2 separate regions of the Homo sapiens genome follow, and region 2 is linked to region 1. The links come from fine-mapping of genetic effects on gene expression. A gene starts in region 1. The other region holds a variant in brackets. All regions are shown on one strand. Distances are from middle to middle.

The links. PIP is the estimated chance that this variant, and not a neighbour inherited with it, causes the effect.
Region 2: its variant is fine-mapped to the expression of ITIH5 in ovary (GTEx, PIP above 0.99). The same link has a PIP of 0.9 or more in lung and testis.

The regions. Positions count from the first base shown.
Region 1 is chr10:7,663,058-7,671,057 of GRCh38, reverse strand. It overlaps ITIH5 (inter-alpha-trypsin inhibitor heavy chain 5), which reads left to right and starts at 4,092. Exons shown (of 14, transcript NM_030569.7): 1 at 4,092-4,255. The coding sequence starts at 4,166.
Region 2 is chr10:7,538,102-7,546,627 of GRCh38, reverse strand. LOC105376391 (a long non-coding RNA gene) reads right to left here and starts at 5,229. Exons shown (of 2, transcript XR_930632.2): 1 at 4,992-5,229. RefSeq lists enhancers at 4,280-5,139, 7,077-8,276. The variant G/T (reference allele first, on the strand shown) is at 5,226.

The DNA.
Region 1 (8,000 bases):
GTCCTTCATGAAGCCTTCCAGACCACAAATACAATCACAATCTTGTCCCTTCTCCTCTTAGGAAATCACTACTGAGTTCAAATTTTGTCCATTTTGTTAGCTCCATCTTCATATCTAAATGGTAACTTCTTCAAGGTCACGGAGTCTGTCTAAAACTTGTCATATTACACACAACTAGCACAGGGTAACATAATGGCAGATATACATTTTTTCATTCATTCATCAAGCATACAGCACGTCTACTCTATTCCAGGCCATGTGTCAGAGCCTGAGGATGTCAAAACAAGAATGATAGAATCCTTGACCATGAAGAAATCAGAGTCTAATTTAGGTCTCAAATCTGCAAGCCAATAATTAAAATATGGTAAGTGTTACACTTTGTGAACAGTTGAGTTCAGCAATCACCAATCATATATTAGAAAACTGCATTCCCTATTTCTTCCTTCACAAATCTCTGTGGACAAAACTCAGTGTTTGGTGAAGCAGATGAAAAGTAGGTATAACTAGACTCCTGACACGCTATAACTGGGCTCCCGAGAAATCATCAAGTCAAAGTCAAAAGGAACCCATTTCCTCCCTAGTAGTCCCCTCTAATCAAGAAAAAAAAAAAGCCAAGGTTGTAAAAACCTGTAGCGATTCTACACAGTTGTCAGGGGGCCAAGAGAAACACACAAGGCCATATAAGTAGATAAAAAAGGAGTAGACCAAGGATGGGGAGAAAGAGCTGTCCCAAATAGAACAATGGCCTTACAGAGGCTCAGAAGGGAGGATGAGAGAGGGAGAGGAGGTGGAGACCAAAGAACTGGGTGGTGGCTTAACTCTAACCATAGCTAGATTTAGGAGCTATGGGGTGTCAGGATGTAAAATCAAGGGAGAGGTTTAAAAGAAAACAAACAGGCAGCCTGCTTTCAACTCGTTAATCTCGTTAAGTCATGGTTGTTTTGACCATGATTTTGGGCCCATCTATTGGTAGTCTCCAGTAGGAGACCAGGATAAAGGGATAACTCTCACAAGTGTGATTCGACAATTCTGGAATACTTTGGCCCATCATTCAGTTACTTGAGGGAATGATTTCCTAGAAGTGGCGTGGACAGAGCAGCATCTCTGGCCCAGGAGAAACAGCTCCTGTTCATTCTTGGACTCTGAGTCCCTTGTCGCTGAGCTCTGCCTCTAGATCCTGTCCGTGAACCCCGGGGGCCTTCCCTGTGATTTGTCACTCGTGGCACATGGTCCTGGTGAATGAATTGAGCTAGACATCGTGCAGGGTCTTTTCTAGCTTTGAGATTTTATGTGTTCAGTAACTGGAAATTCAGCTCCTCCTGGAGGTAAAATGAGAAACATGGAATCAAAGGACAAATGTATGTGGGGACACCTTGGCCCTTATTTATAAGGCTGATATAAATCACTGTCTTTGCTTGTTGACAGTCTTGGAAAACTTTCACTAGGTCTTATTTTTATCACACCTACCTAGATTTTAAAGATCATCATAGAGATACACAGGTGTCACATAGAATACTGAACTATTACAGCTTGAAAATAATAGGAAGTTCAGAAACTCTGTCAAGTCATACAGCTAGGTAGCGGTCAAGTTTGCACTATAGCCCAGCCCCACCTCCCTGGCACAGCCTGGCTCTACCATCCACACTCATTCCTCCCATCTACTAATCTCATTCATCAAAAGGTCCTTAAGTGCTAACAATATATTTAGCACAGTTCTAGAAGTTGGGGGAGAGGCTTGTCCTCAAAGAACAGATCCAGTTGGAGAAACTGGCTTTATATTAAACAAACAACACATTAGAACCACAGTCTAGGGTAGAATCAGAGGGTCCTCCCAGATGAAAATAAAACTCACTTTTCTTAACATTAGACTGCTGTAAAACCCAGTTAGTATGAATTTGGGAAAAAAAAAGAGATCAGATATAAAGGCAAAAATAGTTTAATATGGGCCCTTTCAGCATTTCAAGTTAGGGATGGCAGGGAAGGAAAGACGATGGAGTCTCTGTTCTGTTGCAATCATGGGTTGAAATAATGGCCGCTGTATGGTTCCCTATTGCAAATAAACTGGCTTTGTCCAATTCAACTTCTGGTTCACAAATAGTTACTTTCCTCTGGAGGGAAAAATAACCGGCTACAGTTGTTTCTTATTGGTTGCATGCTGACTAGTGGTTAGGCTATTAAAGGATTAACTGCTGATGACAATAATTTTCCTTTCATTTATTTCACAGTAGCAAGGTGTTTGTTTTTAACCTCTCCTAATTCATTAAACAAAGAGCATTTCAACAAGAATAGATATTTTCGAGGATCTCACCACAAACTAACCTACCCACTGCTTTTATTTTTCATGTTTTTTTTTTCTAGTTATGTCCCTCCATATGTATTTCTACCTAATTGCAATCATACTGTTGATACGATTTGGTGATGTGATTTTCTCTTTAGATTACACTGTCAACATTCTCCATGTTTCTGGAGACGTCGCACGATTATTTAATGGCCCCATAGTAACCTGCATGGAATAGTATTCTCTATTCCATGGTCCGAAGTTAGCCCCTTCCCTGTTCTTGGTCCTTAAAGGGTCTGTCACTCACCTCACCTATTTAGATGAAATTATCACAGAGACATAAAAAACATCCTTTGCAACATGAAATAAACAAGTAGCCCCAACTGCAATGTGTATCACCAGATAAAAAAGACGCACTCAGCCTGTAGAAGGCCAGGTGTGGACGGCTGGTGGGTAAGAATTCTTCCAATGGCAGGATGGAAGTATCACCAATAGTTTGTAACTAAGATACATACTGGCACTCACTTACATGATTAATAACCAGAAACTCAGAAATACTACACGCTACCAAGATACTTCCCTCGTCTCCTCTGTTTCCTTAGAACATAAAGGCTGGCAGCCTTGCTAGTCCCTCCTGCGCTAGACTGCAGGTAGTATCCTTTGTCCTGCCTATTAAGCGTCCCTGGCCAATGCAGAGGGGACGATCTGCCGGCTTCAGGCTGGCAGGTGCGGGGTGGGCTGTGTGCTGAGGACCAGGCTGGCCTTCTCGCGTCCTCTGGCGACAGAAATTAAGCAAGTCCGCAAAGAAGCATATTGCACCTTGAGGGAGAGGAAGAAAGAGTTGCGGGGGCGCGTGGGGTAGGGCCCGGGAGGCAGTGGGTGTTGGCAAGAAACGGAGTAGGAGGCTCTACAGAGGAGACTGGTCCTTGGTTAAGTGTCACAGCCGCAGGATGGGAGGGTGTGGGAGGGGTCCGTGGGGCCAACACAGGTGGCCCCTGCTGTGCGCGGCGAGGCAGGCTTGGAATGCCTTCTCCCCGAACAGAGCTAGCCCAGCACTGGGGGCTGGAGGCGCGGCTCTGGTGGGACTGAGGCCGGGAAGCGGCGCCGGGCGGGGTGGGGACTGGGGAGGAGGCGGGGCTGGTGTGGGGGCCACAGGGAGGCGGGCCGGGTTTAAGGGGGTGGCTGTAGGTGGGGTCTGGGAAGTTGGCCTCGGTGGGGACAGGGACAGGAGAGGTGGGGCCGGGACTGGGGAGGTGGGGGGAAATGGGGGCGTGGAGAAACGGAGCTTGGGGTTGGGGACCTGGGGAAGCTGGGTCCTGACTGGGGACAGGGAGGCGAGGCCGGGCTTGGGGGGTGTCCAGGGAGGCAGGGTGTGGGAAGGTCTGGGGCGGGGAAGTGGGGTCTGGGCTGGGGTGGGAGAGTTGGAGTCCAGAAGGGGACCGCGGGGTGGAAGGGGTCCGGGCTGGGACCGGGGTAGGCGGAGTCCAGGAGGGGACGCAGGGTGGGCGGGGTCCGGGCTGGGTCCGTGGGGTGGGCGGGGTCCGGGCTGGGACGCGGGGTGGGCGGGGTCCGGGCTGGGTCCGTGGGGTGGGCGGGGTCCGGGCTGGGTCCGTGGGGTGGGCGGAGTCCAGGAGGGGACCGCAGGGTGGGCGGGGTCCGGGCTGGGTCCGTGGGGTGGGCGGGGTCCGGGCTGGGTCCGTGGGGTGGGCGGGGTCCGGGCTGGGACCGCGGGGTGGGCGGGGTCCGGGCTGGGTCCGTGGGGTGGGCGGGGTCCGGGCTGGGACCGCGGGGTGGGCGGCCCCGAGAGCGTCCCGCAGTGGCTGGAGCCCTGGGCGCTGCAAAGCGTGTCCCGCCGGGTCCCCGAGCGTCCCGCGCCCTCGCCCCGCCATGCTCCTGCTGCTGGGGCTGTGCCTGGGGCTGTCCCTGTGTGTGGGGTCGCAGGAAGAGGCGCAGAGCTGGGGCCACTCTTCGGAGCAGGTAAGTGGAGCCGAGGGGAGCCGGGTCCCGGGCGCGGCCGCCCCCTTCCCTCCGCCGGCCCGGCCGCGGAGCTTCTGCCCGGGCCCCCTTCGACCGTCTCCCAGGCCCCCACCAGAGGCCCAGGGGTCCCTCTCTGTGGGTCACTCGTGCGTCACCTCTGTGTGAGCCGCGGTGCCTGATCTGGCCTGAGGCTTCCTGCAGAACTGTGCCCGGGACTTGTCCTGCGGAGCCGAGTTTTTCTTCTTGGCTCCTGTTGATTGCGCAGATTTCTGTTCGTCGTTGTTAATTTCTGAGGTAGCTCCAAAAGTTATTATAATTACAAGGTTTTTTCCTTATCACGCGTGGGGGGCAGTCTGCTGTTATCATCATTCCCAGTTGATCCAGGGAGAAAGGCAATATGAGAGGAGTTCTAGACTCCTGGGAGCCTCAGCTTTTCCCACCTGAAAACCGGGAGAACACGACTTTCCCATTTAGCGACTACCTACCGGTGGTTTAGCATTTAAAGGTGGCACCGAGAGCCAAAGCGTCTGAGTTCCTCGAGTTGCTGGTCTGTGCGTTTGTCAGGATTTGTGTTTCAAATGTCTTAACCTCGCAGGCGAATAAAACCTGCAAATATGAAATGTCAATAAAATGATGAATAGAGCATTTTTGTCTTTAAAAAGTATGAAGCGGGTTCACACAAATAGCATTGAGAGCTAATGTGCAACATGGCCCTGTCACAAAGTAGAAGTGCTTTCACACACATGCCATTTAAATATTTAAGCCGTTTAGCTTCCAGCGTGTTTGTGCACGGTGGGAGGAAGATACAAGTAGGCGGACCTTTTCTCCCTTTTCCAGCCCCTGTTTTGAAGAGCAGTTTTGAAGCCCAACTGCCTAAATATGAAGACAGTTATCTTCATGTTCTCTGTCCTGTGAATGTGCTTAACAGTAAAGTGGTAGTAATGATACTTCCTTCTAGGGGGGGAGTAGCTAATAAAATCCCAGGAGGCATCGTAGTGATGTTGGAAAAGTGCAGGCTTTGGATGCAGAGACAGGCTGGGCTTTAGTTGTGTGTTCCGGGCAAGCCCTTTAATCTCTCAGAGCCTTCATGTCCTCGTTGGTCAGGGCAGGGAATGCGGCTCTTTTTGAGCAAACTTGCAAGGACTCAGCTAATTTGTGTTAAGCACCTGGTATACAGTGGACGCTCAATAACTGGGAGATGTTTTAGTAGATGGCTGAAGGCATGGGCTTGGTACCAGGATGTCTGGGACCACTTGATTCTTGATTCTGTCACTTATCAGCTCTGGGACCCTGATCAAGTGCCTTTCGGCCTTATATTCCTCTTCTGTGAAATGTGGAGAAATGATAGGGTTGTGAGGACTGAATGCATTATGACACCCAAGTGCTTAAAACACTGTCAGCACTTAATGCTGGCCATGGTCTTAGACTCATGCTGCTGACATGCTGAGTGAAGGAATTTAGGGTAAAGATCTTGAAACTTTTTTGGGGGTGTGGAGACAGGACAGTGTGGGATGGACTGAAACAAAGATTCTGTGTCTGAACTAGGAAGGCTGTTTAAACTCTAGCATATACCAAGTTCAAGTAGGCTTCACAGTCTATGGACTTGCTGTCATAAAAAAACATGGCTTGACCTCTTTTAGTGATTTCATGCTGTCTTCAACCCAGCACAATATTTATTTATCTTGAAAATGACTAAATCAGGAAAAAAAATCCAAGGTATAAAGTTCTATGAACTTGCAATTTTACCTTTTATCCCTAATCCGTTCTTTTTTATATTTAGTTTTTGTGATATAGGGTTTGAGAGCATAGGCTTTAGCACCAGAATTCTGGGTTCAAATCTTGGCTCTGCACTTACTGAGGAGTTACTTAACGTTTGTGAGCCTCTATCTCTGTATGGGGATGATGCAATTACTTAGGATTTTGAAAAGTGAAACAATTAATATACTTAAATCTTAGAACAGAACCTGGGAATGTAATGAGCACTCTATTCTCAATCATTATGGTCTTTAAAATTGTATGTAAACTTAATTTGAAAAATGTAAGTCTATGCAAATCTTATGCAAATTTTAATATAGCTGAATATGACTATTAACTTGCATTGCAGTTATTTGTCATTCACCTGTAATTGGAAATATACCAGTAACACCTTAGATTCAAGTTCCTTCACCTCTCACCCTTCACCCCATCTGTAGACAGTGGGTACTCAGTAACCCATAGTGGAATGACTCCTAAAAGCAGTGGTTTTCACCCTTGGGGTGGAAAAAGTCACTTGGGGTGTTCATTAAACATTCAGCTTCCTGAGTTCCACTTCCATTGGTTTAGATCCATTGGGTTTGGGATGGGGCGCAGATGATTCTGATGCAGGTGGTCCATGGAACACATTTTAGTTTTTTTTTTTTTTTTGAGACGGAATCTCGCTGTGTCGCCCAGGCTGGAGTGCAGTGGCAGGCTCTCTGCTCTCTGCAACCTCTGGCTCCTGGGTTCAAGTGATTCTCATGCCTCAGCCTCCCAAGCAGATGGGATTACAGGTGCACTCCACCATGCCTGGCTAATTTTTGTATTTTTAATAGAGACAAAAATACATCACGTTGGCCAGGCTGGTCTCAAACTCCTGAGCTCAAGTGATCCACCTGCCCTGGCCTCCCAAAGTGCTGGGATTACAGGCATAAGCCACTGTGCCTAGCCGCACACTTTGAATAGTAGTATTTTTAAAGGATATTTTGGGAAATTAGTATTTAAAAGAAAATCCCTTGTATAAAAACTGTCTGCTACAGACTTATCTGTTTTGTTAGCTTAAATTTATATGGTGTCTTTAAAGATAGAGTTATATTCCCATTATTATCAAAGCAGTTTTAGATTGACAAAATAGTAAAAGCCACCAGTTATTGAGTATCTGTAATGTCCCAATGTCTCAGGGAGTTTGCTAGGAGCTTTATGTGAAAATAATAAGAGGCAATAATGTATTCTGGTTGAGTACTCCATGTGGTGCCGGACTGCCTGGGCTCATATCTGGACCCCATCACTTACTGCCTGTGTGTACCTGGGCAAGTCACTTAACCTCTCTGGGTCTCAGTTTCATCATCTGCAATATAGAGTTGTTAATAATTCCTACTACATAGGCAGGGGTGGATCTAGGCTTTGGGAGGAGAGTAAAGTTTATACAATTTGCAGGACCCTCTTGAAGGAAAAAAGTATCAAATTATAACTACAAAATTAGGTGCTAAAATGACTATTTATTTAGAAAGATAAAGAAAGCACAACAAATTACACATTTTGACAATCTGACAGGCACCACAAACATCACGCATTTTTAGGGGCTTGCACAAGTGAGGTGTCCTGGAGCTTATGTTTTATTAGCATGTAAATAATAATTTAATTTTTATAAAAATAACAGTTCTGCTTTTATGGTTGTTCGAGGATTAAATGAGTTAATTCAGGCAAAGCATTTGCATATAGTAAACACTTAGGTAATATTAGCTGCTTTTACTATTTATGCACAGCCTAGTTAAGTCTCTGACTACCGCTGTAATGTCTCAATGTACTTATTTGACAAAGGACAACCAGGAAGTCCTTTCTGAGAAGTGACAGCTGCAACAACCTACTATGTGCAAAGCCTGGATTGGAGTGTAGGTGTGCCGAACACCAAAGCTGGGGCTCTCAGCAAATCCTTCAAACAGCAAGCCATGTTCACTTTTATAATTTAGTTGAATTTATTTAAATGTGATTTGTATTTGTAGCTCATGGC
Region 2 (8,526 bases), 120 kb after region 1:
ACTTTGCAATAAAACTCTGAGCCAGGCTCAGCTCTGTGGAATCTCATTCATCAGCAATCACTCTAAGGCTAAGCAGGCCTCTGCCTGGGCTGCATGTGGGCAGATCAGATGTCCGGTGGCTGCTGATGTGGTGAGCACTGGCACAGAGCGATGTGGTGGTGACTTGAGGTCTCAGGAAAGAACTGGGGGTTTCCATTATCCTGGGCTTCCTGGGTAATGCAATCTGAAAATCAATTCTCATTAAACACAAGTGATACTAATACCTCTGACAGGTTACATCTTAAATGATAATTAAAAGCATATTTCCTGACACTTGGCTGCTATGAAATGCAGCCCTATTTATGCCACTGAGGAGGCCTCACAGTGAGGCCCTGTGGACAGCCCCCCCAGGAAGCGTCCGAGGTCCTGGATTGTCACTCATTATTTTAATCTGATTTTCTTTACTCAAGTAAAATAGAACCTGGCATTGGTGCTTTCTTTCACCACTTCCACCAGTGGTCCTTAAAAAACAGTTAACGTTGTCATAAGCCAAGGAATGAAGACTTCATCTTCCACTAACACAGTCTTTGGTTCTAGCCATGGATAGCGCTTATTAATAAGTGCAGCTGCATCCCACTAAGTTTTATAAACCTCTACAATTCATGAGAGCTGTGGCAGCTGAGACGTTACATCCTTCTCTGAGTGTCATGGTGGAAAGCATCTCAGTGTCTGAGGCCGTGGAGTGGGAAGTGGAGCTGCCAGGGTCCTCATGGACACAGACTTTCAGGAAAATATGAGTTTTTACAGTGGCCAGTCACAGTTCCTGATTTGGCACTTTTGGTATCAAAGTGTCTAATTTTATCTCAAAAATTTTCTATTGGGAATAATGGGAAGGTTCAATGTCTCCTACATTTGAACTGGACTTATTGATCATTAAAACAGATCATTAAAACAGAGGAATAGTCAACCAGACCCAAACAAGAAAAAACATATCCATCCTATGTTACATTAGCTTCCCAGGGCTGCCAAAACAAAGTACCACAAACGCAGAGGCTGAAAAGAGCAGAAATTGATCATCTCACAGTCTGGAGGCCGGAAGTCTGCAATCGAGGTGTTGGCAAGGTTGTGCTTTCTCCGAGGCCTCTAGAGAGGATCCTTCCTGCCTCCTCCAGCTCCTGGTTGCCCCATGCATTCCCTGGCTTGTGGCCACATTGCTCCAGTCTCTGCCTTTCTTTTAACCTGGCTATTTTCCCTGTGTTTTTTTCTTTTTCTTAAAAGACATCAGTCATCTTGGATTAGGGGCCCACCCTACTCCATTATGACCTCATGTTAACTAATTACTTTTTTTTTTTTTTTAGATGAAGTCTCACTCTGTCACCCAGGCTGGAGTGCAGTGGTACAATCTCAGTTCACTGCAACCTCTGCCGCCCGGGTTCAAGCGATTCTCCTGCCTCAGCCTCTTGAGTAGCTGGGATTACAGGCGTGAGCCACCGCACCCGGCCAACTAATTACATTTTTAACCACCCTATTTCTAAATAAGGTCACATTCCCAGCTGGGTGCCGTGGCTTACGCCTATAATCCCAGCATGTTGGGAGGCTGAGATAGGTGGATCACTTGAGGCCAGGAGTTCAAGACCAGCCTGGGTAACATGGTGAAACCCCATCTCTACTAAAAATATTAAAAAATTAGCTGGGCGTGGTGGTACATGCCTGTAGTCCCAGCTACTGGGGAGGCTGAGGCATGAGAATCTCTTGAACCCAGGAGGGGGAGGTTGCAGTGACCCAAGAACATGCCACTGTACTCCAGCCTGGATGACAGAGTGAGACTGTGTCTCAAAAAAAATAAAAATAAAAATAAAATAAAAATAAGGTCACATTGTGAGTTACTGGAGGTAAGGACATTAACACATATTTTTAGGTGACACAATTCAACCCATAAGACAGGTGGAAAGAGAGATTAGTTGATAAATGATGTTGGGATTACTGGATAACCATTTAACCACTGGAGGAGGGGGACACATCCGTAATTCTTTACCCTGCTCCTTACACTGAAATGCCAAATGGATCCAAGTTTTAAACGTGGAAAATCATGAAAGTATTAGAATGAGAACAGCCAACTCATAAGACTGACGGGCTGCCATGGTGTGAAAGTGCTTTACACACGTCAAAGCTGAACCCTCACAACAACCCTGCTATTATCTTCAGCTGAGGAAATGGAGGCAGGGAGAAGTTACATAATTTGCCTGAGATCACACAGCTGGGGAGTGCTACAGCTGGGTTCAAACAATGGCAGTCTGTGCTCTTAATCAATTCCATATGATGAGTACAATCTCGGAGGAAGGCAACTCTCATGTCCGGTGCTTACTTTATGCTCTTACGTAGTGCCTGGAAATCTTATAATGCATATAGGTTACTTGAAAATTTATAGGAAGATAATTTGCACCCTCTCTTTCCTCTTCCTCCTGCCTGCCACGGCCTTCCTTCCCAGGCACCCTCTTGGCAGGGCCTAATTAGATGGTTGATCTGCCCCAGATCTGCAGCTGAAGAAGCCTAGTAGCTTCTATGGTGAAACTTGCATTGGAACTACACCCTATTTCCATATCCTTCTGGAATTTTCCATTGATATGGTCTGGCTTCGTGTCCCCACCCTAATCTCATCTTGAATTGTACTCCCGTAATTCCCACATGTTGTGGGAGGGACCTGGTGGGAGATGACTTGAATCACGGGGGTGGTTTCACCCATACTGTTCTTGTGGTGGCAGATAAGTCTCACGAGATCTGATGGGTTTATCAGGGGTTTCCACTTTTGCATTTTCCTCATTTTCTCTTGCCGCCACCATGTATGAAATATCTTTCGCCTCCCACCATGATTCTGAGTCCTTCCCAGCTATGTGGAACTGTAAGTCCAATGAAACCTCTTTTTCTTCCCCGTCTTGGGCATGTCTTTATCAGCAATGTGAAAATGGACTAATACATCTGTTTTCTGTGATGCTGAGCCAAACGACTGCCTCTGATTGGGTCAAGTGCACACCCCCTTTCCAGGGTCTGCAGACGGCTTCCCGGGCATTTGTCTCCATCAGTCTTCTCAAAGGTGCAAGTGCTCGTGAGTCACCTGGAGAATGTGGTGCCAGGTCAATTCCGGTGTTGGGGGAGGGGCATGAGTCTCAGATCCTCTATTTCCAACACTCCCCCAAGGGAGGCCCACACAGATGCCTGTGGACTGTGCTTGGAGTAGCAAATGTCTAAATCTCTCTTCTCTATGAGCTCTAGCTGGTACAACTATGTCCGTCTGAAAATCAGGGCCGTGGACCTTTAACTAAAAAGACCAAAGAACCGAGACTGAAATGCTGTCCTAAAAATCTCTTTCCTAACATGCTCATAGGAGCGTGCCCCAGGGAAGATGAAGAAGAAGCTTAGGGCTGCCAAGCTTTCCTATTCAACTTGTTGAGACTTGGCCCCAAGAAATAAACCCCGCCAAAGCTCCCACGTGGAGGCAGGACTGGTAAAGTGGGGGGAGTCTCCACAGTTAGGCATTTGCCCAAAAAGACCAAGTGGCCAAAAAATAATGCACCACTACACTGATAGTTTGGGAGTTATCTGCTAAGTGTAAGTCCTTGTGCCAGACACACATTTATTTTGTTAATAACAGTAGAGAAATGGGGTAGTGCTCCAGGGTCTTAGAGTACACTTTTCTTCTGGGATCACAAAGTGCTTTAAAGATAATATCTTATCCCTATGCAAAAACAGCCATCTCTTCCCCTTGCCAGAGGAAAGATACTACCAAATGATGTCTTAATGATCACCTAAGCGTGATGGCAGAGTCACAGCCAATAACCAAGGCTCTAGACTCTCACTTCTGTGAGTGCTTATTGCTAAGTTCGCATTAGCAGGGAAAGAAAAGGTACTGGCATGTACTGAACCCCATTCACCAGGCACTTTGTCAGGTCCTTCTTACAGGGGATTGCATCAGAGTAAACAAGGGACCAGAATCAAACTACTAACTCAACCTACTGATATTCAAAGTAAATATTGATTACGGATATAGAAAGTCATTATTCCATATAGTATATTAGGAGAGTGGGGCATCACAGGCAAAACACCATCTTTGTGGTCACCAAAAAGTTGCTGGAAGATTAAGGGATTCTGAAATGGCACCCTTGACACTTTACTGGTATATGTCCACTACTGCAAACACTGAGATATTTGTTTTATGCTATTTAAACAGATACGTGCCACATACTTGTTAGGTAAGCACAAAGCCTGTTAATTAGGGGACATGAACATAAGCAGGAATGATAATGACGTCTGTCTTCAAGGAACCTACTGTTTGGTAGAAAGATAAGAAAGGCAAGTATATAATAATTTCATCATTTACCAGCTGGGGAAGTTGAAAAATGATATTTAGATATCCTCTCTGTTTTGGGAAGTAGGACGGATCATGGAAGCAGCCAGGAGGAATCAGCAAGGGAAGATGAGATGGGGTCGGTTTGGGGCAGAGGATGCCCCCTGCACACTGAGGAGTAGTACACCCACTCCAGCAGCCTGGCAAACCCAGCAGCACTCACTCACACTGACCCTGTCTCCCTAGAAGCCCCGTCTCTGCTGCAGGTGGAGTTTGCAGCCAGCAGGAGGATTCCCATCAGCCCTGTCAACGTTATCACCAGTTCTGAGTAAGGAGCAGTGGTGAACTTTGTTCCCTGGGTCACTGGAACTCCAGTAGAATTGCTGATTAAAATGGGCTGTCAGGCCACCCAGGGATTCCAGGCCACGCCTACCGCACTCCACTCATGCCAGAGGGGACCTTCTTTTCAATGACACATACAGGTCCCAGATGGTGGGTAGCCTACCACTGCCAAGAAGTAAAAAATCCCCAAAAACTCCACTTCAAATTAAGTTTCTGAATTCCTTGGTGTTCTTTTGTAGACAAAGTAGAGTAGAGACGTTTGCAAATCTCTTCCTGAACCCTTGAACCGTAAGAGTTAGCCCATGCGGGTCCACCAGTCATTACTCACCTCTCCTCCTACTCGCATTCCACCCCCTACAGCTCCTGGAATCTCCCGGAGGTGAGAATCCCTGAGGCCCAAACACTCAGAACACCCTGCAAACTCCCAAAGCCCCGCCGAAAAGACAGGGGGAAGGGGGCGTTCAGGACTTTCCCTTTCGGATCTTGGGCCTGCGCTCATGTACTGGCCTGGTCTTAGCCAGTTAAACTCTCACACGCAAAACCCAGAATTCCAATCCCAAAG[G/T]GTCCTTGATCCCTCTCCAGCCTGTCTCGCATCATGCAGGGCAAACTGTCCAAGCAGGCCTGCTTGGGATGTGGGCCGGCTGTGTTATGGAAACACTGCACGGGGCCATGGCAACAGCAACGGCAGCCCCATCCTCCCCTCCTGGGAGACGTGAGCCCAGATGCCTGCACACAGGACCAGCCGTCTGCACAGGCAACCTTATTCTAACAAGGAATGAGCCTACGTGGCCTTTGGACAGTGAATGACTCCACAGGTCCTAAGAGCCATACCTGTGGTTACAGTCGTGGGATACAAAGAAGGAAAGAGACATACTTGTTTCAGCTCCATTTTCCTCTGCATAGGATAGCTTTGCTTTTTGGATAAGGAAGAGAATTTATGTCAGGCTTTCACTCCTTTCTTTGTATGTGACACTATTGAGGCCTCCCCACCCATGCACCTACTGTTTGCACGCTGTTTGGTGATAAGCCATGGGGTTTTCTCCCAGGAAACCAACTGTCTCTGTCCTCAGGTAGTTTACCATCAGACGTGAAAAACACCAAATGAGGCTTCTTTTTGAACTTTAATCTTTGCTTTAAAAATATAAAGGGAGTGAAATGGTGCAACTAACACGCTACAGTAAATTTATTTTTCACCCAGTCAATCACATAGCTGTTATTTGTCAACTGATAATGGAAACAAAAGTCTGTTATCTGTGAATGGAGACCTGGTGGCCAGTGGCCGGTGGTATCAACTTGCATCTCTCCTAAACCTAACATCCTTCCAGGGTGCATTTTACTGTCGCAAATTGGTGAGGGCTTTAGACAATCAATACAAAGTAATCATAAGATTAAATTAATAGAACACAATTTGGAAAGGATGGCTTGGCATGAAGACAACATGTCATGTTCTAAACCAAAAAGTGGATTGTTCCCTTTTTGGATATGTAATATAATGGTTCCATTCCTCTACATTCTCTATCTCTCTCTCTTTTTTTTTTTTTTTTTTTTTTGAGACAGAGTCTCACTCTGTCACCCAGGCTGGAGAGCAGTAGTGCAATCTCAGCTCACTGCAACCTCTTCCTCCCAGGTACAAGCGATTCTCATGCCTCAGCCTCCCAAGTAGCTGGGATTATAGGTGCTCACTACCACGCCTGGCTAATTTTTTGTATTTTTAGCAGAGATGGGGTTTCGCCATGTTGGCCAGGCTGGTCTCGAACTCCTGACCTCAAGTGATCTTCCTGCCTCGGCCTCCCAAAGTGCTGGCATTACAGGCACCGGCCCCCTCTCCTTTTTATCTCCAGGGTGTCCACAGCTGCTGAGCACATCTTGAGATCTGCTTTGTGCTTCTAATCAAGGCACATTCTTTAAGTTTTTGGGGATGGAGGGAGGGTCCACTACCCCCTCTGCCAAGGGTGTTCCTGAAGCCAGCTGGGAGCAGGAATTGTAAGCAAGGAGATGGGAGGGGAACAAACACAGATTCTCTCCCCACTGGGCTGTGCAGATTAAGAGAGATACATAAACTCCAGTCCACTGGGAAAACAGCGTAAGTTCATAGAAATTGCCTATGACAAATCAGAGGCATTGCATTAGATGGAGCTGGAGTGCTTTGTGGGAAGGACTTTTAGACTCCTTCCAAAAAATAAACCCCAAGGCTCACTCTCAGTCACTTTGCTAATTCTAACCAGTATTAACTTGACCTGATAGAGACTTAATTCCCACCCACTCCCAGTTTTTGGAGCAACTTGAAGTAGCCCTTCCTTTCACCCTCCCACCATCTATCTGCTCTTCTCCCACACAAAGGCACTAAATGAGGAGCACCCAACCAGATTCCATGAATTCTCACCCTTCCCATCTTCTCTCTTTCTCACCACACCCAGAGTTCAATGCCTTAGTGCATTTTATGCTTACCTCTAAACAATTATGAAACAGTCCAATTCTTTCCACCCCCAGAGGTACGAAACCGTGATTGCATGAAGATCAGATAAACAAAACCAAATCTGACATTTATTTTCCTGTCTTTGAAGGGCAACTGAGCACTCCCGTGAGATGTCACATCCTTCTAATAGGTCAGGGGGCTGCAGTTTTCTTCCATGTTGATATGTAGCCCAGGGAGACTAACTTTACGGTGACGTCATGAATGTATAATCAAATCAAGAACCATTCACTGAATGCCCACTCTGTGCATGACACAGGGAGAGGGGCCAAGGGCCTATTATCTGGTTTTGAGGCAAACAGGCACACAAGGAAATTAACTCATGAGAGGAGGAAGTATATCAAGGCTCTGTCGGTGCTACAGGAAGTAAAAGTTCAGAGAAGAGAGAGAATATTGTGAACTAGAGCAGCTAGAGGAGGCATGGGGTGAGGGTATGGTTGGGCAGAAGCCAAAAGGGGAGGCAGAAATACCCAACACCTACTGTGAGAAGACAGCCCTTCCTGGGACAGATGGAAGGTTGGCATTAGAGAGGGGTGGGACATCATATCATGGTGGCAAAGGTCATCTGCTCTTTAGAGTGTCCAACTTCCATAAAGAATAATTCATATGGCTTTCTGGGGCAATCCTGCACCGTGGATTCTGAGGCCAATTGTATTTTCCAAAAAGGGACACTGCACTATTTCTAGTCCCACATGCTCTTCTGTACCTTGCCACTATGCCCAGCAAGAGGTAGGATCTATTTTGCCATTCCATTGAATTCAGGTGGGCCTTTGTGGTCATCTCGATGAATAGATGGCAATGGAAGTGAGGCTACATGGCTCTTGAGACAGGTCACAAACAGTGATACAGCTGCTGTCCTCTCTCTCTTAGGACACTCATCATTGAAATCCAGCCGCCATGTTGTGAGGAAGCACATGGTGCTTCCATGTTGTGAGGTCACATCGTGAGGCCACGCGTAGCTGTCCGGCAGACAAGCCTAGCTCAGGTCCTAGCCAAAAGTCAGTGTGAATCCCTGGGCATGTGAATGACTGAGCTTCAGATAATTTTAGCCCCCTGCCTTTGAACTGTCCCGGCTGACAGTGAGCAGAGCAGAGACAAGCTTTCCTTGTCAAGCCCTGCCTGAATTGCAGATTCAAGAGCAAAATAAGTGTTTTTGTTGTTTTTCGCCGCTATGTTTGGGGATAGTTTGTTACACAGTACTTGATAAATGGAACAGATTCCATATCTACCCCTTACTTAGTTGTACTAAAACTCCAACAGGAAATCAGAGTATCTGAAAATTCAGCCATGTTAAAGTGACACTATGATTGAATGTATATTGCTTTTTGTTTCAATGATGCTGATAAACTTGTTTTTCGGGTTCAATTTTCTACTTAGGCTGCATTAGGAG